7 linked regions of the Homo sapiens genome follow. The protein of the gene in region 6 purifies or fractionates together with the protein of the main gene of each other region. This does not show direct contact. Each region holds a gene or a part of one and is shown on either strand. Other genes may lie near its edges.

Evidence for each region.
Region 1: the proteins of NLK (region 6) and FOXO3 purify together in Homo sapiens (affinity purification with western blotting, with the first as the bait; one study listed by BioGRID). This does not show direct contact.
Region 2: the proteins of NLK (region 6) and OBI1 purify together in Homo sapiens (affinity purification with mass spectrometry; one large-scale study listed by BioGRID and IntAct). This does not show direct contact.
Region 3: the proteins of NLK (region 6) and UBAP2L purify together in Homo sapiens (affinity purification with mass spectrometry; one large-scale study listed by BioGRID and IntAct). This does not show direct contact.
Region 4: the proteins of NLK (region 6) and TRPS1 purify together in Homo sapiens (affinity purification with mass spectrometry; 2 studies listed by BioGRID and IntAct, with this or other methods). This does not show direct contact.
Region 5: the proteins of NLK (region 6) and TFDP1 purify together in Homo sapiens (co-immunoprecipitation; one study listed by IntAct). This does not show direct contact.
Region 7: the proteins of NLK (region 6) and PASK purify together in Homo sapiens (affinity purification with mass spectrometry; one large-scale study listed by BioGRID and IntAct). This does not show direct contact.

Annotation. Positions count from the first base shown.
Region 1 is NC_000006.12:108,675,917-108,679,416, forward strand, and holds part of FOXO3 (forkhead box protein O3), read left to right. Parts: intron 1-3,500. UniProt on the Homo sapiens protein: Transcriptional activator that recognizes and binds to the DNA sequence 5'-[AG]TAAA[TC]A-3' and regulates different processes, such as apoptosis and autophagy.
Region 2 is NC_000013.11:78,652,656-78,656,155, reverse strand, and holds part of OBI1 (ORC ubiquitin ligase 1), read left to right. Parts: intron 1-3,500. UniProt on the Homo sapiens protein: E3 ubiquitin ligase essential for DNA replication origin activation during S phase.
Region 3 is NC_000001.11:154,227,455-154,230,954, forward strand, and holds part of UBAP2L (ubiquitin-associated protein 2-like), read left to right. Parts: intron 1-1,160; coding exon 1,161-1,271; intron 1,272-3,500. UniProt on the Homo sapiens protein: Recruits the ubiquitination machinery to RNA polymerase II for polyubiquitination, removal and degradation, when the transcription-coupled nucleotide excision repair (TC-NER) machinery fails to resolve DNA damage.
Region 4 is NC_000008.11:115,658,976-115,662,475, reverse strand, and holds part of TRPS1 (zinc finger transcription factor Trps1), read left to right. Parts: intron 1-3,500. UniProt on the Homo sapiens protein: Transcriptional repressor. Binds specifically to GATA sequences and represses expression of GATA-regulated genes at selected sites and stages in vertebrate development. Regulates chondrocyte proliferation and differentiation.
Region 5 is NC_000013.11:113,633,253-113,636,752, forward strand, and holds part of TFDP1 (transcription factor Dp-1), read left to right. Parts: coding exon 1-33; intron 34-637; coding exon 638-781; intron 782-1,281; coding exon 1,282-1,350; intron 1,351-2,724; coding exon 2,725-2,876; intron 2,877-3,281; coding exon 3,282-3,448; intron 3,449-3,500. UniProt on the Homo sapiens protein: Can stimulate E2F-dependent transcription.
Region 6 is NC_000017.11:28,189,177-28,192,676, reverse strand, and holds part of NLK (serine/threonine-protein kinase NLK), read right to left. Parts: intron 1,657-3,500; coding exon 1,458-1,656; intron 558-1,457; coding exon 464-557; intron 1-463. UniProt on the Homo sapiens protein: Serine/threonine-protein kinase that regulates a number of transcription factors with key roles in cell fate determination. Positive effector of the non-canonical Wnt signaling pathway, acting downstream of WNT5A, MAP3K7/TAK1 and HIPK2.
Region 7 is NC_000002.12:241,139,473-241,142,972, reverse strand, and holds part of PASK (PAS domain-containing serine/threonine-protein kinase), read left to right. Parts: coding exon 1-136; intron 137-2,219; coding exon 2,220-2,452; intron 2,453-2,917; coding exon 2,918-3,088; intron 3,089-3,500. UniProt on the Homo sapiens protein: Serine/threonine-protein kinase involved in energy homeostasis and protein translation. Phosphorylates EEF1A1, GYS1, PDX1 and RPS6.

The sequences.
Region 1 (3,500 bases), on a different chromosome or scaffold from region 6:
CAGATTAAAGTTGATTGGGGTTGTTATGTTTTGTGTAGTTTTTGGAGGCATTTCCCTTTCTTAGAGTATCATGTGATTTATGGTGATAATTAGGCAGAAACTTGTCTTCCCTACAGATGCCAAGATTATAGAGGGACTTGCTCTCACCAGAGACCAGATGACAGCATCCGTAGATATTTTTAGAATGGACCTCATCATTTATTTGGTCTCCCCATTTCATTTTCTTTGTATCAGCAATTGATTTCAAACTTGTTTATTGGGCAGGGAGGGGAGAGAGGGCGTCTTCCCTTATTAATGAAAGTCACTGATGGGACAGAACAGCATCTTTGTATTTATTGTTAATTGGCATATTGCCTAGTACTTGCAGAGTAAACTACAATTCCATCAGCTGTAGCTTCATTTTCTTTTCAAAAGTTTTGCTTAATCTGATGTGTTTTCTTACAGCATTTTAAAATTTTATTTATTTATTTTGAGACCGGGTTATGAGACTAGTTTTTGTATTTTTGGTAGGGACGGGGTTTTGCCATGTTGCCCAGGGTGGTCTCCAACTCCTGGTCTCAAGGGACCGCCCCCCTCAGCCTCCCAAAGTGCTGAGACTACAGGCATGAGCCGCCATGCCTGGCCCCTTAATCCGATGTGTTTTTAAACTAGAAGAGCATCGACACATACACATAAATCTCACGGTTAACTAAATAACCGTATAACTAAAATGTCATACTTTAAACTATTTAAGAATGACATGAGCTTTCTTAAAACCCATGAAACTTGTACCCAAGCTAAGTATCATTGACTTTCCCAGCTCAGTAGCTGGGTTTCATCACTTAATATGCTCCCTCTACTCTTTCTGTCCTTGATTGAATCAGATAAGCATGTACAAACATTGAGCCACAGGAGAGCCATTAAAAATCTAAGACAGATGAGCTGCTGCTTTCCTTTTGATTATTTTTATTACCCCAGTTTTCATTGTAAATGGTGATTCTGGTGTTCCTCTGAGAAGGTTAATTGTATTTCTGTTCAACATTTATCTTCTATATTTTCAGTGTTTTACAATCTGTTTTCCTTCTGTCACAGAGGAAACCAAAGGCCTTTCTGTTCTCTGGAGTGGGAGTTTCTGTATTAAATTTGTCCTCTGCAAGAGTTGCCTCTATACCTGGGCCAAATCCTCTACCAATTCAGCCTATAAGCACCAAGGTGGTTTCCTGAGCAGGCCTCCCTGGGAGGGCATTGCCTGGGGGACCTCAGCGGAAGCTGTAGAACATAGCTTCACAGGTGACCCCAACCCCAATCTGCAGAAAGGGAAAGTGGTGATTCACACATCTCGTTTTTAATAATGGAGTTCTCTGAAGATTGGGGCCTTTTGATGAAGGAATGGATATTAAGCCTGGGGACTGTGGTTGGTTAGTGCTTTAGACTGTCCCACATGGGCCTCCTACTCCTGGCTTTGGGGTGATGGCCTGTTCTGCTCAAAATTGTGCTCTGTTAGGGGCTCATGGGTGTCCTCTGTCCTCTTTCCTGCTGTGTTGGCCCAGCCCACATTGGAGCAAGCCACACTCCCTGTCTCTGTACTTGGGGAATGAAGTGTGTCACCTTCCCATTATGCACTGGCTTCTGTGGCTGCATAATTAATACCCAAGGGAACTGGAGAGAGATCTGAATTAGGTAGTACTTTACAGCTTCTCCCTCGGCGCTTACAGTAAGTCAGGATGGGGACTTGGGGATGGGAGTCCCCTGATGACTGATCACATAGTGATGTTGGATGGTGGTTTATTAAGTGTTATTGTGAGGGGAAAAAACCAAATCCTCTTCCAGAGGACTGTGCCTGTGAAACGCTATCTAATCATTCATACTTTGCAGGGCAAGGTAGAGTAGTTAGAATAGCACTGACTTTAGCAAGCTACGGTCTTCACAGATGCTGAGATCTAGTATTTACTTCAGCTTTTACTCCCTCTAGAATCAACAAGCCATTATTTTATAGTCCAAGGTAATATTATCTAGTAGCTTTACAAAGCAAAGAATGCCCCAAAAAACCATCAGCCAGGGAAACTAAAACCTAGGGATAGACAGGAAGAAGAAAGAGGCTTCTTTTTATACTTTATTGTCCCTACCTCCAGTAAAACAACCTAAATTCTTCAATTTGGAGCTTTAACAAGGATAAGTAAATATGACCATGGGCATGTAACATTGTAAATACTAAGTCCTGCTGTGTTTGCAAACATTGAGAGTGAAAGGTAAGATTGCCAGCAAGTGCAGAGTCACAGAAGAGATTGAAGTTACAGTACACTCATGAGAATTCCTGATGACCCTACGGTACAACCTCTAAAGGTGGGAGAAGCAGATGTATATAATGTGATTTTGTGTGTGAGTTTTTTGATGCTTTTTTCATTACTTATTTACCTTGTCTGGAGAGAAAAGCACGAGTTCATGTTGTTTCACTACCACTTTTCTATCCATTTCTTGGCCTAGAGCCGTTTCTTTACTACCATAACTGCCAACACTATCTCCATAAACAAAGAATCTTATGTCTGGAGGTCTGTCATGTCACGTCCTTTTGCTATTAAGACAGCTCTATGAATATACTTTTTTTTTTTTTTTTAATCCCTTAACTTTTCTGGGCCCAGTGGTCACATGACATCTGATAAGACTTGTATAAATTCAGATGCTCTAAGAGCACCTTTTTTGTGCCTTTCCATTGAAGACAAAATAATAATTGGAGGCAGAATAATAATAATGTTGTTGATTGTTAATGGGGTGTTTTATGGGGGATTTCTTGTCCATATATGTGTTATGTAATTTTTTTTCTCCAAATTTGTAATACAAAAATCAAATTCCTAAGCCAGGTGCATTGGCGTGCCTGTAGTCCTAGCTACTCAGGAGGCTGAGACGGAAGGATCTCTTGAGCCCAGGAGTTCAAGTCCAGCCTGGGCAACATAGCAAGACCCCATTTCTTAAATTCTTTTTTTTTTTTTTTTTTTTTTGAGACGGAGTCTCGCTGTCGCTCAGGCTGGAGTGCAGTGGTGCGATCTTGGCTCACTGCAAGCTCTGCCTCTCAGGTTCACGCCATTCTCCTGCCTCAGCCTCCCGAGTAGCTGGGACTACAGGTGCCCGCCACCGCGCCCGGCTAATTTTTTGTATTTTTAGTAGAGACGGGGTTTCACCATGTTAGCCAGGATGGTCTCGATCTCCTGACCTCGTGATCTGCCCTCCTCAGCCTTCGAAAGTGCTGGGATTACAGGCGTGAGCCACTGCGCCCGGCCCATTTCTTAAATTCTTAAGATGGCCCGCTTAGTAATTACTTACTCTTTTTATGGTGGGGAATAGGGGAGTCAAGATTACCCACACCCAGCACTGCAGACTTATTAAGGCCTTTATAGAAAGTGGCCATTTCATCTCCACTGGTGTTGGGGTATTCGTGGAAAAGGGTGGTAAGCAATTCAGTTAGTCCACATAGCCAGTAGGGAAGAACCAGAAAAGTATAACTCATCTACTTAGGATGAGCGGCT
Region 2 (3,500 bases), on a different chromosome or scaffold from region 6:
TAACTGTTAGCTTTTACTATAGCCATTGAGGCCAGCCCTCAAACTGAGGAAACCAGCCTTTTCCAGTAATTGTTCTTCCCAGTTGCTTTGTGAGGCTGGAGCACTTCAAAATGAAGATTTGCATTCCCAACCAAATGAGACCTGTTTGTTCTGGAAATTGCCACAGTACATCCAGAATTTTCAGCTGGTTCCATGTCTCTTTTCTTTTTTATAGTGAAAGCAAATTCAGTATGATTGTGCTGCTCACCCTCCTACACGTATTATACTGTGAGATACTAAAACTGGCGTGTCCTCAGGTTCGCTTCTGCTTCCCTGACATAGAGCATCTCTGGCCACTTCTAAGAATGTTCCTAAGGTCCTTCGTGCCTAGCTCTTTTTTAAAGATAATTGTTCTTGTGCTACTGTTACCATATGTCCCCAGATCTCACAGTCAGCATCTTCTCTTTTGATTATTCAACAGAATTAAGGACCATTATCCCTGGAGGGTCACAAGGTGGATACCATGAAGGGGGAGAGATGAGGGCAGGGCATTAAATCTGAAGAGATAGATGCCAGTGGGGATGGAGAGGAAGGAGAGAGAGCCCAGGTATTCACCTGTTAATGCTTTGTCTTTGCACTTAAAATTGGAAAATTTACACCTCTGTCTCTACTTCAGTTTTAAAGGTGAATTTTCTCTACCCAATAATGTTTTTAGTTACTTTGCCAATATTGTAAGTAAGAGCTCTATGTGGCCTGAAGAAGTTAGGTACCATCCCATGGGATGATTTACGCATAACATATTTTCTTACCTATTCTTCCCTGTTTTTTTTTTGTTTGTTTGTTTCTTAAACTAGTGGGCCAGCAAGCAGAAATGTAGTAATGATCTATCCCAGAGTATCTGTTAAGTGACATTTTGATAGTGCCACCAGGCTGTTACAAACCAGTTTACCTCTAGATAATTCCAGGGTTTATCTTTTCAATTGGGACTCAAGCTGTGAAACCAAATTATGGCATGTAATACTTTTTATTGGCCGTGCATGCATTTTGCCATGAGTGAAAGCCAAATGTGGCCCGCAGTTGGTTTTATGAAAGGGTGAAGGAGATTCTCAAGAGAAATGCAAAGCAACTAATGCTTTTCAGCATTAATGTATCATATTCAGTTATTTCTCATTCGACTATGAGTCCAGTTTTGGGTCCTACCCTTTAAGATAAACAATAAACCAGAGTATTTTGAAAACATTTGGGGGAGAATGAAATTGGGATTGGAATGTAGGTGGACTGGAATAGTGCTGGAATGAATGGATATGATAGGGAATCTTTAATTAAAATATTTTTCATTTGGAAGGGACTCAAGCCTTGTGTGGCTCCATAAAATTATGATTTCTACTTAATATTAAGGGCAAGTGTTCTGGCTGAAATAACCAGAAATGAAATCAGCTTCCTTATAATGCAGGAGTTCCTGTGTCTTGGAGTATCCTCTAGTAGACTGACTGTTTCCCATAAGGAATGCTATCAAAAGGATCCCTTCTTTCAGGGATGCCTCTCTTCTTCTCACCCATATTGTTTATTTAAAATATTGAAAATATAGGGCTAGAGACAAAGCCTTATGCAACTTAGAGTCCTCACTCTAGGATGACAAAATTCATTAATCACTGTTCACTTGGAGCTGTTGATTGATCAGCAAGTCATCCACGTCAGTACATGGAGCCCATGTTTGAGTCCTGATTGCCTCTCAGTTCCCAAGAGTGGATTTAAGAACCAGCCTTGTACATAATTGTCATAAGTAATTTGCTTTGAAAAAAAGCCATATGGACTGCAAGTTCTACATTTTTCTCTTTTTTCCAGTTGAAAATAAGTTTGAAGGATTCACTTTCAGAAAAGTATAACAATATTGCATTTTATACATAGTGTATAATAAGTTAATTCAAAAATCGTAGATGTATCCTAGTAATTATCAGGGTTGGTATGTAATAGCTGACATACTTACTTGACAAGTACAATTCCAGTTTATCCCAAAGCATTTCTGGTAGGGATGAAGGTAGAAGAGAAGAGATGTATCATCTCTCCTTTTACCTAGACAGGAATGGGGAACCAGTTCTATAGGCATTAAGTGACTTATTTCACACAGGTTTTTTTTTTTTTTTTTTCCTTAAGTTATAGGACCTAAATTCTGGCCCAGAACCAGGGATTTCTTAAAACATAACCAAGAGCTATCCAGGAATTTTATTTTGGAAAGTTTCCAAATTCCTAATGTTGAAGTAGTGGTGCCCCTACCATAGTCATTTTTACACTGAAGACTAATCCTTTACATAGTCTTTCCAGGTCTTCACTAGAGAAACCGATAAAGTTTTGACAAGGTGCAAGAAAGAATAATATTCTTTCTAGAAGCACAGTTGGCTCTTGTCTCTAGTGAGGGGAGGATGCCAGAAGAGCAGGGGAGTTGGTTTTATAATAGATATAATTGCAAGACCAGTTGGTAAAGTTCATCAATACCGTCTTCACTCCCATCACCTCCATCAGTGTCCAGGATCTCACTTCCTTCAGGCACATCGTCCTGTATTTATTTCTCCCAGATTATTGTTCACTAACCCTGCTCCAAGGAAGAAAGAACTGTTTCTTAGTTGAAAGAACACATGATTTTGCAGTTGAATCACATTGAGTACAAATGCTAGCTCTACCATTTATAACCTGTATCATTATTTCTTAGAGTCTCAGTTTCCACAACTGAAAATGGATTTGATACAACAGCCCCACTAGCTTATTAGTAAGATTCCTTTGACTATACCATACTAGTGGTTCTCAACTAGGTGGAGGTAGATTTTGTCCCCCAGGGACATGGGGCAGTGTGTGGAGACATTTCTCATTGTTTTCAAGGGGCTGCTACTGGCATCTAGTGGGTAGAGCCCAGGGATGCTGCTAGCCAGACATCCTGTAATATGCAGGGAACCGCCTAAAACAAGACTTTCTTCAGTCCAAAATGTTAGTAATGTCAAAGTTGAGAAACGCTGTTTGAAGCCAATGTGTAACTCCTAGTGGGTAAGTCTAGGATGATATGGATATTAATGAACAACAGCCTTAGGCATGTCTCTGCCCAAGTATACTTGCTTTTTTAAGAAAGGGGATTTGGTGGTAGAGTGGACTCTCTTAAGACTGGAACATCTTTAAAAGAAATGAAATATCAGAGTAACAGATTGTAAGGTTAATATATCTGCCCCAAGAACTGCCCCCTCAGGCCCATTCCAGTAAGAAGAGCCCATCCTTTACACCTGGGGGATATACCCTAGGGCAGGAGTCTCCAGTCTCAGTCAGGTACTGTTCAGTCAGTGGCCTATCAGGAACCAGGACTGCACAGCAGAAGGCGAGCAGGGAGTGAGATAGTATTACCACCTGAGCTCTGCCTCCTGTCAGATCAGAGGCAGCATTAGATTTTCATAGGAGCATGAACCCAAATGTGAACTGTGCATGCAAGGGATCTAGATTGTGTGCTCCTTAGGAGAGTCTAATGCCTGATGTTCTGAGGT
Region 3 (3,500 bases), on a different chromosome or scaffold from region 6:
TATAGGTATTGAAAGAATTTTGACCTGAAATATAATAGGTCAGGCCAATAAATAAGTGCTTTCATTCTCTAATTTTTTGTAGCCCTTTGTTTTGTTTTTTGTTTTTTTTTCAGATGAAGTCTCACTCTGTCACCCAGGCTGGAGTGCAGTGGCATGATCTTGGCTCATTGCAGCTTCTGCCTCCCGAGTTCAAGCGATTCTCGTGCTTCAGCCTCCCGAGTAGTTGGGATTACAGGCGCTCACCACCATGCCTGGCTAATTTTTTGTATTTTTAGTAAAGATGGGGTTTCACCATGTTGGCCAGGCTGGTCTCGAACTCCTGACCTCAAGTGATCTGCCTGCCTCAGCCTCCCAAAGTGCTGGGATTACAGGTGTGAGCCACTGCACCCAGCCTATTGTAGCCCTTTGGATAGATACTTTGTTTGGAAATTTTATCTTAATTTTAACCTCTTGCCTGTTGCTGATGCCATTTTGTAGAAACTGAGCAGTTGTGGGTATAGGAAATGTGGAAATTCATGCTGAAGCCTGTGTGTTTCAGAGTTTGATTCTGTATTTGATGCTTAATTGCTTTGTAAATACTTTTGACCTCATCCCTGAACCACAGATGTTAATATTTGGCTTTTGGAAATAGAATACCAAAATTCTACATGTTTTCCTTTTTGGCGGGGGTTGGGGGGGTGGTTCTGGAAAACCTGCTAGGCAAATTCTACATCATTTTTCTTTCTTTCTTTTTTGTTTTTTTTTTTATTTTGAGACGGAGTCTTGCTCTGTGGTCCAGGCTAGAGTGCAGTGGCGCAATCTCAGCTCACTGCAACCTCCGCCTCCTGGGTTCAAGCAATTCTTCTGCCCCAGCCTCCCAAGTAGCTAGGATTACAGGCGCCCGCCACCACACCCAGCTAATTTTTGTATTTTTAGTAGAGACAGGTTTAATCATTTTGGTCAGGTTGGTCTCAAACTCCTGACCTCAGGTGATCCGCCCACCTCAGCCTTGCAAAGTGCTGGGATTATAGGCGTGAGCCACTGTGCCCAGCCCTCATCTTTTGCTTTTTAAACTTGTTTTTTTCAAACTCAACTGATAGCGTTTCCCTTCACCTAGTTTCCTTTCATTGGGAGTGTGAGCATAAGCCTGTTCATGATGGTTGCTGTTTTTTCTCTTTCAGTTGATTGATATTACAGGCAAGAACCAGGATGAATGTGTGATTGCTTTGCATGACTGCAATGGAGATGTCAACAGAGCTATCAATGTTCTTCTGGAAGGAAACCCAGACACGGTAGAGTGCTTATAGAGTGTTCTAGGACATGGGTCCTCAATTGGGAGGCTAGTAATGTTCTAAAAGTAGCAAATGGCAACATACCTTAAAGCAGAGCACCTTTTTCTTGAAGTAAAGTTGGGAACTTTCTTGGAGATTGTTCACCACAGGTTATAAATACTTAAAATTTATGTGTACTACATCCTTTTTATGAGGATAATGCTCATAGGAGAAAACAGTGAAATCAGTCTCTGCTAATTGGCCTGGAATAAATTATTTATTCCAGGCTAGTGACTGTTTTCAGGCTGTGGGGTTAGGCTGAATTAGAGGTGCGATTTGATAGCCTTGGATATTGCTGTTGAACAAAGTCACACACTATACTTGATTCTGTTTTTTTTTCTTTTTATTTTATTTTATTTTATTTATTTTACATATTTGATTCTGAATTCAGGACATTCCCCTCAATATCAGCTTCGCATTGCACACTACTGTTTCATTGCCTGAACTTCCTTCTGTTGAGGTAGCAGAGAAACAAGCTTTGTAGCCTGCTGACCATCCCTGGAGATGATAGGGGATATCTTGGAGGATCTCTTGCCCTGGAATTTAGACAAGTCGCTTTCACTTCTCCTTCCCACTTCATGAGAATTCTGTTTTTATGCTTGTCTTATGTTTGTACCAAATTGTAATCCTCTGACTGCCTTATTGATCTTCAGAATGTTCCTGCAGTGCTTACTAGAGAAATTTTGTTTTTTTAATGAGCAGTGTATTATTATTATTATTATTATTTTGAGCCAGGGTCTTACTCTGTGGCCCTGGCTGGAGTACACTGACATGCTGCAACCTCCTCGTCCTGGGCTTAGGTGATCCTCCTACTTCAGCCTCCTGAGTAGCTGGGACCACAGGCATGGGCCACCATGTCCAGCTGATTTTCCCATTTTTAGTAGAGCCAGGGTTTCTCCATGTTGCTCAGGCTGATTTCAAACTCCTGGACTCAAGCTAGCTGCCCGCCTCGTCCTCCCAAAGTGCTGGGATTATGGGCATGAGCCACCGCACCTGGCCCAGTGTATTATTTTGAAATCATTTTCATTTATTGGGTCTTATACTGGGGCTCTTTGGTTGGAATAGATATCAAAATTCATCCTTACAGATAACAACTTGTTTTTTTTCTTGAGTCAGAGTCTTGCTCTTGTTGCCCAGGCTGGAGTGCAGTGGCGTGAACCTGCTCTCTGCAGCCTCCACCTCCCAGGTTCAAGTGATCCTGTGCCTCAGCCTCCAGAGTAGCTGGGATTACAGGCATTCACCACCATACCCAGCTAATTTTTTTTTTTTGAGACGGTGTCTCTCTCTGTCTCCCAGGCCGGAGTACATCTCGGCTCACTGCAAACTCTGCCTCCTGGGTTCAAGCAATTCTCATGCCTCAGCTTCCCGAGTAGCTGGGACTACAGGCATGCACCACCATGCCTGGCTAATTTTTTGTATTTTAGTGGAGACAGTGTTTCACTATGTTGCCCAGGGTGGTCTTGAACTCCTGAGCTCAGGCAATCCTCCTGCCTCGGCCTTCCAAAATGTTAGGATTACAGGCGTGAGCCATGAAACCTGGCCTCAGATACAACAGCTTTCTGATACTACAGAGTCACTCCAGCTAAATGCAGGAGGTTTGTCAATTTCTTTGAGACAATGGGAAATAATAATGGAAAACTTTTAAAAACAATTGAATTTAAATTGGTGGGTTTTTTCTTCAAAAGTGTTATCCTGGATTAAATTTTACACTGTTGACCTTATTTGAATATTTACTATCTGGCCAATCAAGATATGCTTTTGATTTGTTTTGGGTTTACTCTAGAATAATTGTCTCCAGATTTTATGGGGGGAATCAGGTGGGGCTATTTATGTTTTTTTAAAAGTCTGAATGTTTTTTCGCAAATCACATTTTATCTTACCTTCCAGCATCTTCTGTCTAGTGCTATAAGGCTGATGTTATACAGTATCAAAAAGGAAAATAAGCTGGAGAATATAGGTTTATGTTACGAATAAACTAGCTACTAGTGAAACCAATGGGAAGCAAAGTCAGCTCCCAGGGATATTGGATGTATTTGGGTGGGTGAGATCATTTCAGAAAACTGAAGTCGCCTTTGGGAAGATAATAGTAATTCTTTCTCCTGACCCATCTTGTGCCAGCAACAGATGTGCATACAGAGGAGGGAGAAAGGTTACAGTTTCCTGAAACTTGCCAGGTTTTGAGATAGCAGC
Region 4 (3,500 bases), on a different chromosome or scaffold from region 6:
CCCCATTCGGTGGCTCAGAACTAAGTACTGTTTCGACTTTTCTTTTGTGAATTGTTCCTGAGGTTTAAATCTTACGGTTACTTGTCGTGGACTTTGCTTTTAACCCAAATTCTTCCTGATAGATTTTTTTTTTCCTTCTTTACCTAGAGCACATTTAAGGAATAATATATATAGTGAAAATTAAGTGTCACACAAGGAAGAGTACAGTCTTTAAGGCATTTATGACTATAAAAAGCATTCCGCAAATTTGGGGCATTGAAGTGTTCTCTGCTTATAAATTTGACAGTTTTGATTTACTTGATATGTTTCTCAGTTTTTCTTGCGAGAGTTACAGACTCTAGTTCAAATCGTAGGCATTCCTTTTTTGCTTATGGCTTCTTTAGTTAAAGATTTGTTTGGAAAAACTTTAGGAACTTAATGTATATGTTGTTCACATCAGCATAGTGCAAGTTTCTTGGAGTAAGTCTAGATTCATTTTATTTATTACAAAGTTTTCAAACATACATTTCATGTTATGGCTGCATCTGTTAATAAATTTTTATTTAATGAATTTTGTTTGTTGCTTCAAAAATGAGGAAAAGCAATAAAGTTTAGCAAGAAGGAAATAAGGCAAAGGGAGGTGTTTAGAGTTGCAGTCCCTTAATATCGCAGATTGTTTACTGGTAAGTGGTGGGGAGGGGTTGGTGGGAGGTTTTGTGGAAGATGATACCAAAAAAAAAAAAAAAAATCCATCAATTGCGCATATGCTCCCCTCCCCTTAAGGTTTACTTAAACAATATGTTTCGATTTTGCCGCAAACCATTCTGCACTACTTCTGCTCCAAGAATCCACCACTATCTTGGTTCCTGAGAGATTAAGGATGATGTTTTCTGTTGTATAATGAACAGCAGTATTATTTGAACAAAGGTAACACTTTTTGATTTGTGTAATTTTTTAGTAGCTTGTCATAGGATACCTATAATATGAGAGGAGTTCTAGCAATGTAATTGCCTGCAAATGTTTGAAGTACTCACGATAGCTTTGCTATGTTTGAATTATTGCCAATATATGTGCATGCTATTATAGGTGTGTTTTATATGTGGAATGTATGTAGACCGATAATACTTAGACACATCTTGATGGTGGAATTTAGAATGCTAACTATTAACTCTGTGCTTGAAATGTGAATCTTTTAAGGAGTTAACATGACCTACATTATGAAGTCTAAAAGTTTGAAATGAGTATGGAGTTTAAACATAATGAATCAATTGTTATCATAATACTTATATCTGCTCTGAATTTACTAAGGAATTTTTTTAAATGAAAAAAATTATAAATCAAAATGCCACCTTTCAGTGTATTGTAAGAAATGCTTCTGAGATCATTTTTTAAGTCTCATTTCTGTTAAGAGGAGCAGTTAAGGGACAGGACTGTTTGTGAGTATATCACTTTATGGGCTACCACTTTATAGTTTACAATTCTATCATCTCAAAACGTTATGTAGAAATAATATGGAACATGTAAAGACTCTGTACTATGACCCAATGCATTTTTCCCTAGGGTGATGGATTCTGTGCGTCACCCAAATGTGATGCTATTTGCCAGGCTTGTAATACTGGTTTTGAGGGTTGATCTATGTCCTATTTCATCAAGCAACACAATACAACAACTTTGGTATCTAGGGTAATTGACACAGTCAAAATAGTCTCTGGAAAACATTCCATATACTTTTAAGTTAAGTCAGAAGTTAATGTACATATTAAATTTATTTAACATGAATAAACAAATGATTTATTGTTAGCTATTTGTCTAATATACTAGATAGTGTTAGAAGGAAATATACAAGTATTTACAGTTTATGTTCCATTTCTTTTTTTCTTTTTTGAGGGGAGCATGGTTCTCTTGTTTGCGTTCATAATAGCTTTATCTGTTAATTACTTTGTATTCATGATAGTGAGTAGTATAGTATCATAAATCATAGTAAACATGTTTATATTATCTGCTATATATGTCCCAAGCTTGGAAAAAGCATTAATATTACTAGTTGTTAAATTGAGTATTATAGTAACCAGGAATGAATCCAGTACCGTATAAGACAATAGATAAGACATCAACTGCTATTTAAACACTAAAAATACCTTAGCTGTAGAAAAAGAAAGATCAAAAGGATTTCAGAGCTGTTTTTACTTGTAGAATTTGGACAGAATGTATAAAGCTTACAAATCAATAAACATTAATAATATAACATGTGCTTCCTGATTAGATTCTACAATACAATGTGAATTGCTATTTCAATTTCTCTACATATCATATGGAAGATCAGATATGTTTATAAATAGTGTAAAAATATATGGCAGAAATTAGTTTGTGGAATCTAATTTCTCTATTACATGATACACTTCATGTACAAAGGGATCAAGCATTACTAATCTAGTGTTAGCTTTTGCTCTCTGAGCTATGCAGAAGTGGAATATATGAATTTGTGGCTTCATATTAAATAAGTGCGTACATGTACATGCAGGATAGCTATAGTCTCACTTGCTTAGAATGTTTTTACATTACAGGCACTACATGGAATTTTAGCATATTGCATATTTTTTGAAATGACTTTAGTCTTTGTAATGCCCATTTTAATTACTTAATGCATCCCAACACCTATTTGAGGGTTAATTTAATTGTAATTTTGGTTCTGAAATGAGAGCATGATAGACAAAACAAATTAAAAACCAAATTCTACTTGTGCCTACTTTGTGATGTCATTATCTGCACATCATCTTTAGCTTTGCAAGATGTGGAAATAAAATACATCAGCCCATTTTCTCTCAATACTCTTAAGTAGCTCTGAACATATAAAAGTTCCTAAAAGAAAGTTTTGTATTTGTTTTTGCTTTGCTTTTTGATGCCAAGTTAAGACAGGTCATATATATATTAATTTTAATCAAGGCCCATATTACTAAATTTTTCAATACATATTCATCTCTTTGTTGTATGATTCATAATTCTTTATCGATTATTTTTTGATATACCTTTGAGATCTTTTAAAATGATATGTTTTACCTGTGTTTGGCTGCTGAATTTTTATATTAGTAATTATATTTAAATTATAAATTAAAAAATACGGAATATGTTAAGCTGTCTTTAAATTAATATTGGAAGTATACCTTTTTAGAAGATTATTGCAAAATTTGCTCCTCAGTTCTGCAAACTTAGGGAAGTTTTAGAAAATAATTTACAAGTAGTCAGTAAGTAGTTACACATTCAAGGATTGAAAAATATGAAATACTATTTTCTGTAGCTTATAAACCAACACTAAGAGATGTTTCTCCTTTGTATTTATAATGCATTTGAATTACATTCTTTGGATGTATGATGTGGTAAATTACTGTAAGAAACTCACTGTCATCTAAACCTCAATTATAATAAACTATTTTACTCTATCCCATCACTGTTTATTCTATTTTTAAAGTCCCGTTTTTAAGAAAACTTGTGCTTTTGAAGGAATGCCCTCATTATTTATAACA
Region 5 (3,500 bases), on a different chromosome or scaffold from region 6:
GCTGCCGACAACCACATCTTACCAAACGAGTCAGTAAGTGTGTGCCGGGGGCCGAGAGGCTGGGGTGGCGGAGCCCAGCGGTGTGGTACGTTTCGCTCTTTTAATATCGGGAACAGTTAAAACCATACAGAAAATGCCAAGTACAGCATAAAAGAATTTTTACCAAACGAGTCAGTAAGTGTGTGCCGGGGCCGAGAGGCTGGGGTGGCGGAGCCCAGCGGTGTGGTACGTTTCGCTCTTTTAATATCGGGAACAGTTAAAACCATACAGAAAATGCCAAGTACAGCATAAAAGAATTTTTCCGATCCATTTGCTGGCACGATGCTTTGTCAACTCCAGTGAGTGAGCACGTGGGCTGGCTCTGCACGTCTAGCGGCCCAGAAATGCACAAATGCCCACCTCACCAGCTGGGCTCGACACCCGAGAGCCCCCGGCTCTCCTTCTGGAACACACTCAGGCTTCGCACAGCCCCGTCTTGCCCTGCGTCATCTGTGGGGTGGGAGCGCTCCCTGAGGGCATGTTGGGGTGGCGGCTCCGTGAGCGGGGTGCCCCTTTGAGCCAGTGCCCATGGTCTACAGTTTAAGGATCCACCGGCCTTTTTGGATCATTTGGAAACTCCACTCCCTGTCATCCCCAGGCTTATGACCAGAAAAACATAAGACGGCGCGTCTACGATGCCTTAAACGTGCTAATGGCCATGAACATCATCTCCAAGGAGAAGAAGGAGATCAAGTGGATTGGTCTGCCCACCAACTCGGCTCAGGAATGTCAGAACTTAGAGGTGCCCCTTCAGCCTTCCTTCAACCTTGATTTCCCTTCAAGTCCGTGTAGATGTTTTAGTCGTCGGTCACTCAGAAGGGTCTGGGCTCCGTGCCCTTATGCTCTCTGTGTCCGGCTGGCAGACGGTCATGCAGACGTCTCCCTGCGTTTCTCAGTCTTGGCTGTCAGGGGAGGGAGCATGGTTGGCCCAGACCCACTAGAGTCTGTTAAACTCTAGTGTAGGTTAATTCTGAATCCTAGTTTGTGGGATTTTTGTTTTCTTTTTAGATACCATAGTTAAATCCAAGAAATGAGAGGAAAGGGGAGAAGGTATAGTTTAGAAATGGAAAAAAAACTCACCTATATCTTGTAGCACCTGCTATGTCTAGATTTGTCCATATCCCTTCGATTACATTCTGGGTAAACATAGGTAACACTGTGAGGATGTGAGGATGTGGGTTTTAAAAAACGCTCTGTGGAACAGTTGTGATGATTCTTCACATGGGTGGTTTGTTTTTGAAGGTGGAAAGACAGAGGAGACTTGAAAGAATAAAACAGAAACAGTCTCAACTTCAAGAACTTATTCTACAGGTAAGAGAATACGTATCTGTGGAGGCAGGGTAATTTTTATTTTACTAATTTAGCTTTATAACGGCAACATACTGCCTTGGGTTACACTCCTGCATGGCAAATCAAATGACTGCTCTAAGATTCTGAGTGTGAGTTCATCTCATAGGTGTTGAACGTGGGCCTTATTCCCAGAGCGAGGTTGTGCACGTGCGTGTGCATGCATGTGTGTGTGCGTGCATGCATGCATGTGTGTGTGTGTGCATGTGCCTGTGTGCGTGCGTGCGTGTGCCTGTGTGCGTGTGCATGTGTGTGCGTGCATGTGCCTGTGTGCGTGTGTGTGTGTGCATGTGTGCATACATGTGTATGTGTGTATCTCTCGTCACAGCATCTAAATAGGCAAAAGACAGATGGAGGGATGACTTCATGCAAAAGCAACATTTGAAAAATCTCCTCAGAGGTGCTTAACCCAAGGCCCAGGTGCCAGGCAAGGCCTGTAAAACTGTGGTGGACACAGTGCACCTGGGTCTTGACAGTGCTGATCAGGGCCCTGGAGCTGGCCTTCCCCACCTCCCATTGAGTGCTGAGGGTGGGCGGCACCACTGGGGGCCCCGTGTCTGGTGTGGAGGGGGTTGTGTGCAAGGTGCTCACTGCAGAGCTGGCTGCTGCCCTGACCAAGGTGTGCTCGAGCCCTCCCAGAGGGGACGGTGTGGCAGCCGTGGTGATGGAGGCTCGTGGGCAGGAGCTCCTCAGGACCCACAGAGTGTCAGGAGGGACAGTCCTGGTTGCCAGTGCCTTAGGACCTGCCAGGTGGGGATAGACCCAGGGTGGCCGGGAGAGGAAGGGAATCTCCTGGCTCTACATTAATAGCAAAGAAGGTCTCTCCAAGTGGAACACTTGGTTTGGGGCCCTGAGGCCCTGGCCCTGGATTCAGCCTTGCAGGGCCTATTCCCCCAGAGGAGCACCCCTGCAGCACATGGGCCCTTCTGCGTTCCACTTTCCAGGGTGGGCAAAGTCCACGGCACGGCACCCCCTCCAAGGCCATCACCCTGTAGGTGCCATGGTGGTAGGTGGTCTTAGAGGGGTGAAGGACAGCAAGGAATCGACTTCCAAAATTGGTGTTTTGTTGAGCGCCGTTGCCGTGGAGGACACTTTTATCAGGGCACGGATGGCTGTGCGCCCGCTTTCCCTTAGTTCTCCCCTCAGGATCCCGTTTCCTGAGCGCTTTTCTCCCTGGGCTGCAGAGGTCAGCACCCAGCGGCCGGCGCTGGCATTTCAGATGTCCAGGCCAACTCCTCGCTGTCACGTGGACGCAGGGAGGGCTGTGAGGACCCCTCGAGCACAGGGGCTGCGTTCTTGTGCCGCCACGGGCCACCTGGCTCCTCTTATTTTTTTTAGCAAATTGCCTTCAAGAACCTGGTGCAGAGAAACCGGCATGCGGAGCAGCAGGCCAGCCGGCCACCGCCACCCAACTCAGTCATCCACCTGCCCTTCATCATCGTCAACACCAGCAAGAAGACGGTCATCGACTGCAGCATCTCCAATGACAAGTAGGTTGTGGGCGGGGAGCTGTTCCCTGGTCACCCATCTCTTTTTTAGGGAGCCGACCCTGTTGGTATTGTCACTAGGACAAGTTTTAAATGTTGTACAAATAGCAAATGTTGCACAAATTGCTGTCCATTGGGGGGTGGTGGGAGGCTGCCGCCATGTGGCAGATGGAAGGTCTCTGTTCCGGGAGCGTGTGCCTTAGGGCATGTCCTCCTGGGGAGAATAGGCCTCGATTTGCCTCTCATCTCATTTACTTCAGAGTTTATAAATTCTGTGAGGAGACACTGATGACTGGGAACCGGGAAGCTGTGTGTGGCGGTCAGCGGGTCAGCCGTCCTGGCTCCACCCCAGTGTGTACCGTCTCCGCTGGGAGACCCTGTCTTTCTGACTGTGCCTTTCCCCTTCAGATTTGAGTATCTGTTTAATTTTGACAACACATTTGAAATCCACGATGACATAGAAGTGCTGAAGCGGATGGGCATGGCTTGCGGGCTGGAGTCGGGGAGCTGCTCTGCCGAAGACCTTAAAATGGCCAGAAGTCTGGTCCCCAAGGCTCTGGAGCCATACGTGACAGGTCAGCAATGCCCAGACAACCTGGCGTGGCTGTGTGAGGAATGGCCCCCAGC
Region 6 (3,500 bases):
TTTTTTTTGAGATGGAGTTTCGCTCTTGTTGCCTAGGCTGGAGTGCAATGGTGCGATCTCGGCTCACCGCAACCTCTGCCTCCCGGGTTCAAGTGATTCTCCTGCCTCAGCCTCCCAAGTAGCTGGGGTTACAGGCATGCACCACCATGCCTGGCTAATTTTGTATTTTTAGAAGAAACAAGGTTTCTCCATGTTAGTCAGGCTGGTCTTGAACTCCAGACCTCAGGTGATCTGTCTGCCTTGGCTTCCCAAAGTGCTGGGATTACAGGCATGAGCTACCGCGCCCAGCCCAGATGCTTACAGTTTTAATACACTTTTGACTAAAGCCAAACCTCATAACAGAAACTTTCTGTTGCACCTTTTATCTATGTTATCTAAATAAAAACAAATATGCTGAATAATGAAGTAACACTGGCATCCTTTTAATTCTAACAAGAATGTTGAATTACATACATATAGTTACCTAATAAAGCTCTTAAAAGCAGCAGACTGAGGGTTGATGCAGAGAGGCACTCTGTTTCCTTTCTGCTGTTCCAAAATGAACTGATGAATAATTTCTGTGGAGAAAACAAACATCATACAATCCATGACAATTTGCAAGCCCGGGAGCAGTGAATTCTCAGCGAACTCTAGCCAGCATCTGAAAAGCACTGCCTACTGGTTTAGTTAAATCAAACACACACATCATCTATCAAGCAGAATTCAGCTGAACTTCCTAAAACTAAAATGACAGCTGTTGCTAAATATAAGAAACCTACTGGTGGCATTACACAGACTGCAACCCCATCAGTGGGAAGAGTAAAATGGCCTATAAATTTGAGAGAGACTCCACAGGTTTGGCATTATGGGTGAACTCTTCTAAGTTGCTGGCAATTATTGCCTTTTTGAAGATCACTTAAAGACCTCAGTTGGTATCTAGGTGTATAGTTTCAGGTGGTTACTTTGGGGACTACTCTCTCTCTTGTAAAATGTCCTACAGTAGACACTAAAATCACTCAGAATTTTGGATGTCATTACTCCCACTGTATTCCAATAGGAGATCCTGCCACAAAATTTTATGAGTACACTATCAGAAATTCCCTTCTCTTGTCATCGTCCAAGGAATAATTCCCTCAGTGAATGTTTATCCTTTATGGAACTTTGTATGTTATATAAAGTTCAATACGTTTGAATCAATGAAATGACACTGAGTGAATACATATTAAACATATTTTGAGTCATACTCACTAAATAAACTTTGAAAATAAGAACAAAATATTCATTCCTCTCCCCGACCTTCCCCTGGATATAATATTAAATATGCTTTGTTATGCCCCGGACACACAGCTATACGCAAGGTTGTAAAATAAACATAGAGGGGAGCTTTGGTTACCATCCAGATCTCAGCTCTTCATGGCCACCTAATGGAAAATGTTACTAGGCATATTGCCTGGCCAAAGGCCAAAACAGATACTCACCTTTAACCTGTCGGACAGAACTGAGGTTCTTCTCGAAAGTGTCATCAAATTTGGGATTGGTGACAGGCTCAAAGTCACTGGTATAAACTCTTCCAGTGGAGGTGGAAAAGCAACATTTACACATACATGTGTGATATCGTAGTCGCCCTTCATCTAGGTAGGGGTGGGCTAAGGCATCCTTAGCGGATATTCTTTTGGACTGAAATCAAATTAGAGACCAGCACATCAACACTACAGATAAAATGACTGTCCACATAGGATCTTTCAAAAGACACATTAACTGCTTGACATAGCATATATATAATTTATAGTACATCCCGTCCAAAGAGGGATAATTGAATTTAGAGGTGGGTAACATAGCAGCAGAGGGAGTGTATGATTTAGGACAACTACTGTTATTATCTACCATCACAAAGTACTTAGAAGTGCCTTTCTTCTAAAATTCTAAGAAGTTACTACATTGAAATAGATGTATGCTGGGTCAAAAATCACAAATATCATGACATTTAACTATGTAGTGCTTTGAAGGGGTTACGTTTACCTTTTAAATAACAGGCTATATTTTCTAAATATGTGTCAGCATCCTGAAGATGCGTTCACAGTGGCAATTTTCAAAGTTGCTTGAAATTTTTATTCTCTTAGAATACCAAACAGATGATGGCAAAAGCTGCTGGAGTTAGGCAGCAGACAGTGGTCTGACTGCCATATTTTGAGATATAGCTCAGTCTGAATATCAGAAGTCTAGTCTAGCTTTTTGTTTTCTGGCACTTTATTTTTAAATTTTTTGTAGAGATGGGGTCTCACTGTGTTCTTGAATTTGTGGCCTCCAGTCTTGGCCTCCTGAAGTGCTGGGACTGCAGGCATGAGCTACTGCACCTAGTCATTTTCTGTCACTTTAGATCAGAATACTGAATGCATGAGTTTTAAGTTTGCCTGAAAATCTAAACTTTTAACATTACTCCATGAAAAAATTAAAGAAATTGTCCCTTCTTTTAGCTCAGTAGACATACGTGTATTACTGAAAGTAAATTTTAAAGATTTAAGGATGAACTCACTAGTACACAGTAGAACAAAAACAAGAACACACACTTTGCCCTGATTCCAATATGACCAAGCACTTCTTCACATTACACAATTTAAAAATGAAAACCACTTTTGTTCTCAGATAAACCAAAAACAACTGTTCTCGTTCCCAAATAATAATGAAATGTTTCTCATAAGCCCGGATTCCCTAAAAACACTTTTATCACTGATTTTTGCTATGCTGATGTAAAAAGGCATGTCATGACCTTTCAAGATAAGATAATCACAGAAGAAAGCGGGTGTTTATCTACCAGGAACAGGCAAACGTATACTTGATAACCTTGTTTTTTTTTCCTTTCAATAAGTTTATGTTTTGTATTTGGTGATCTAGCTCTTTTGAAGTCTGACTTCCCTGCATTCTTAGCAAGTAAACTTTTTCCTTTTCTTTTTTTCTAAAAAAGTCTGAGTCCTTTGATAGCGATTCCTAGAGATTCCACTGGGATAGTGTTCCACTGTTTGAACCCAAAGGAACAAGTAGGCTGACAGTGTATGTGCCTGATCCCAGGCCTCTCTGAGCCCTTGGCTTCCCTTTCCTTCTATTTTTCTTTAACTTCTGTTCATGAGTTTCAGGACAGAACTTCAACGGTTTATCCTTCTGTTCCTTTAGGTTACATACAGTGATCATTCCAACAACATACTTGTCTGTAAGATGCTTCACACTTACACCACTGTGCAGTTTCTCCAATAGCTTGGCATTCTGTGCTATAAACAGAAATGCTTCCTCTTTTTAAAAAAATCAGTTACCTGCTGGGTTATCTGCAGGACTTTTTGACATTTTCAACAATATTTTTACTCCAAAGAGCACAGAATAGGCAAAAAATACAGTAAATAATGCCTATAGGTCTTGGCAGCATGTGGGACATTGTGGGGAACCTGTCATTGGTGCATCTGGCCTGCAGATGTGCCATTTTATTACCCTTTGTGGGCACATTTGCATGGGGGAATCTGGATATGCTTGGG
Region 7 (3,500 bases), on a different chromosome or scaffold from region 6:
CCCTTGCCAGTGTCAGCAGAGGGCCCAGCTGCACAGACCACTGCTGAGCCCAGCAGGTCGTTTTCCTCAGCCCACAGACACCTGAGCAGAAGGAATGGGCTTTCCAGACTCTGCCAGAGCAGGACAGCGCTCTCTGGTAATGACCTTCGACCACTGCAGGCCTTAGCGCGTGGAAATACAAATGTGGAGTTGCTCTGTGTTCTCATGGAAACCCTCTCACCAGGGATTGAAGTCACTCTATTCCTGCAGAGAAAAGTTCGTGGTTTAAGTGCTCGGCTCATGCTGGCAGATGACTCCGGCAGGACCCTTCCTGCTGCTTTTACTCTGCTGTGATTCCCAGGCAGCTGGCGCTTCTTTTCAGGCAGCAGGTGGAACTCACCTTCACATTTCAGGGTCAAGTTACAACAAAATGTTATTTCTTACTTTAGAGTATGTGAGAACGCTGTTCTAGGTTAGGCTATTTTACTTAGGGAATTGCAGCTTTGCTCGTGCAGTTTACTGAGCTAAACGCGGTTTAGCTGGTGGACCAAGAATCATGGGGCAGAAGTCTGTTGGTGCCTCCTATGTCCAGATTCCGTTGGTGCCTCCTTTGTCCAGGCACCCCAAAGGACTGGGCCATGGTGAGGAAGGAAGCGTCACTTGCCTTTCAGGGGCTGTCTGATGGAGGCACTTGGGGAGACAGCAGGCTGTGTGCTTGAAGTTGGGGTAGACCTGGAAAATGGGGAAGTGGGGCATAGAGCTGCGGGAAATGGTGGCTGGGAGTCTGGTCTCCAGGTCAAGGAGCACTTCGACACTGGAGTAGGAGGGTGTTGGAGCTGAGCTTGTGCACTGGAGTGTCTGAGGGTGTAGAGCGGAGGGCCCTGTGGAGAGTGCCCAGGATACTGCAGGGAGGGGTGGGCTGGGAGGCACACAGCGCCCTTGGGAGTGGGCTTCACCCAGGCGCTGATCAGGAATGTTCTCAGTGAGTGTTGACAGGTGTGTTCCTTTTTTGGAGCATCATTCTGGTGGCTGCATGAGGAGCAGGGGTGGGAGCCGGAGGTACAGGGCCTTGAGACATGAGAAGGAGCTGCGCTTGGTGACTGCTGTCTGGGGAAGAGCAGGGGCGAGAGTGGCTGGATGGCCACGTGGTTTCCAGCCTCAGAGAATGGTCGGGGTCAGGCCACTCACTGAGAAAGTCAGGGGTCCTGGCTGGAGGACATGGAGGGGAGGGGATGGGAGAGAAATGGAAGGGTCAGGTCTTGAGTGCTTGGTTTTGAGCACTGGAAGAATGTATCTGGTGTCTCCAGAGATGGGGAAGCAGGCGAGTGGGCCGTGGGAGGTCCAGGCTGGAGGTGCGAGTGTGAGAGTCTTCAGTGCATTTCTAATTAGATGTATTTAAAGCTACCGAGGAATGGGTGAGATGGAGCCAGGGTCACTGAGAGGTGGGAGGTGGGGGAGCCCAGGTGCCCGAGGAGGGTGGTGTGGGAGGAGGGTGAGGCCTGAGGAATGACGGGGCTGAGGGTTTTGGGAGCCATTGGAGGCGTTGCTGAGAGAACGCTGCACAAGGAGCTCTTGAATCGTAGGAACGCTTCCAAGGAGGAGGTGACGGGGCAGCCACCGGAGTGGCCATGGGGTCTTGGAATGACTGACAGAGGACAGAAGGTGGGAAGGAAGGAACCTTTGAGTGTAATTAAGCTTTTTTGTTTTTTGGGACAAGGTCTGACTGTTGCTCAGGCTGGAGTGCAGTGGCGCAGTCATAGCTCGCTGCAGTCTCAAACTCCTGGGCTCAGGCAATCCTCCTGCCTTAGCCTCCTGAGTAGATGGGGCTGCAAGGGCACGCCACTATGCCCAACTGATTTTTACAAATTTTATTTTTAGTAGGGACAGGGTCTCGCTGTGTTGTCCAGGCTGGTCTTGAACTCCTGAACTCAAGCAACCTTCCTGCCTCAGCCTTCCAAAGAACTGGGATTATAGGCACGCCTGGCTTTGAGTGTAATTTAGACACAGAAGTGTTGATCTTATGCTGTTTGTGCTTCCGAGTGGACCTGGTGGTTGCCTAAGTGGATTCTGGGGACCATGTTCAGACACGCAGTGAGAGTGTGTGTTAGCTGTGCAGACTGACTTAATCCTTAGATCTTTTTGCAGGAGTTGAGGGCAAGGGCTGTGTGCTTTGCCTGTTTCAGAAGGTGGACTCTGGCAGCTGTGTGAAGTCTAAAGCTTCGCTTCGCTTCTCTTTTCAGAAGACAGATGGAGCTCCTATTGTCTATCATCACTGGCTGCCCAGAATATTTGTACAAGTAAACTGCACTGCCCTGCTGCCCCTGAGCACACGGACCCGTCCGAACCGCGGGGCAGTGTGTCCTGCTGCTCCCTGCTGCGGGGACTGTCCTCAGGGTGGTCCTCACCTCTGCTTCCGGCCCCTGTGTGCAACCCTAACAAGGCCATCTTCACGGTGGATGCCAAGACCACAGAGGTATTTGCTTCTCTTTTAGATCCAGCTGTGTAGATGTGGATTTGTGGTTTGTGCCTTAAACCTGGGATTTGTGTGTTTTAATGCAATTAGAAAAACATTTGGGCACTTCGGGAGGTGGGAAGTTTGCTTGAGCCCAGGAGTTCAAGACCAGCCTGGGCAACATAGCAAGATCCCATCTCTACAAAGAAATTAGCCAGGTGCGGTGGCACACACCTGTAGTCCCAGCTACCAGGGAGGCTGAGGCAGGAGGATCACTTGAACCCAGGAGTTCAAGGTTGCAGTGAGCTCTGATTGCGCCGCTGCAGTGAGCTCTGATTGCGCCACTGCACTCCAGCCTGGGCAACAGAGTGAGACCCTGTCTGTCAGGAAAAGGCTGGCTTCTGCATGGTCGTCCTGGGCTGTTCTGGGCAGCTGGTGGAGCTGCTGGGGATGTCTGCATCCTTGCTCCTCTTTGTGATTCCTCAGATCCTGGTTGCTAACGACAAAGCTTGCGGGCTCCTGGGGTACAGCAGCCAGGACCTGATTGGCCAGAAGCTCACGCAGTTCTTTCTGAGGTCAGATTCTGATGTGGTGGAGGCCCTCAGCGAGGAGCACATGGAGGCCGACGGCCACGCTGCGGTGGTGTTTGGCACGGTGGTGAGTGGATGCGGGTGCAGCGTTCAGTCTGGCCTCAAGACCAGCAGTGTGTGGCAGGAACAGCTCAGTGTTCCCTACCAGGAGCTCTGCTGGGGGTTGGGTGGCACCAGGACATCTCAGCTTCTTCAGCTGAAAATGTCATCCCAGGCGCCGTTTCCCCGCTTCAGCTGCAGTGGGGGTGGGGGCCCTTTAAGAACGAATCATCGCAGGAATGGACACTGTGGCTGTGGCTGGACTCCTGGGAGGTGTCGTGGGTGGCCCTTGCTTTGTCTGAGGGCTGTAGCTTCACTAATGTTTTGCAGTCCTGCCGGGCAGCACATCAGATGCTCAAGAGTAATATGGTTTTATTGTCTATTGATTTTTACATTCTGTTTGGTGTTTGTGGGAGCGGGCGGGGGTGTTGGCCTGGAAG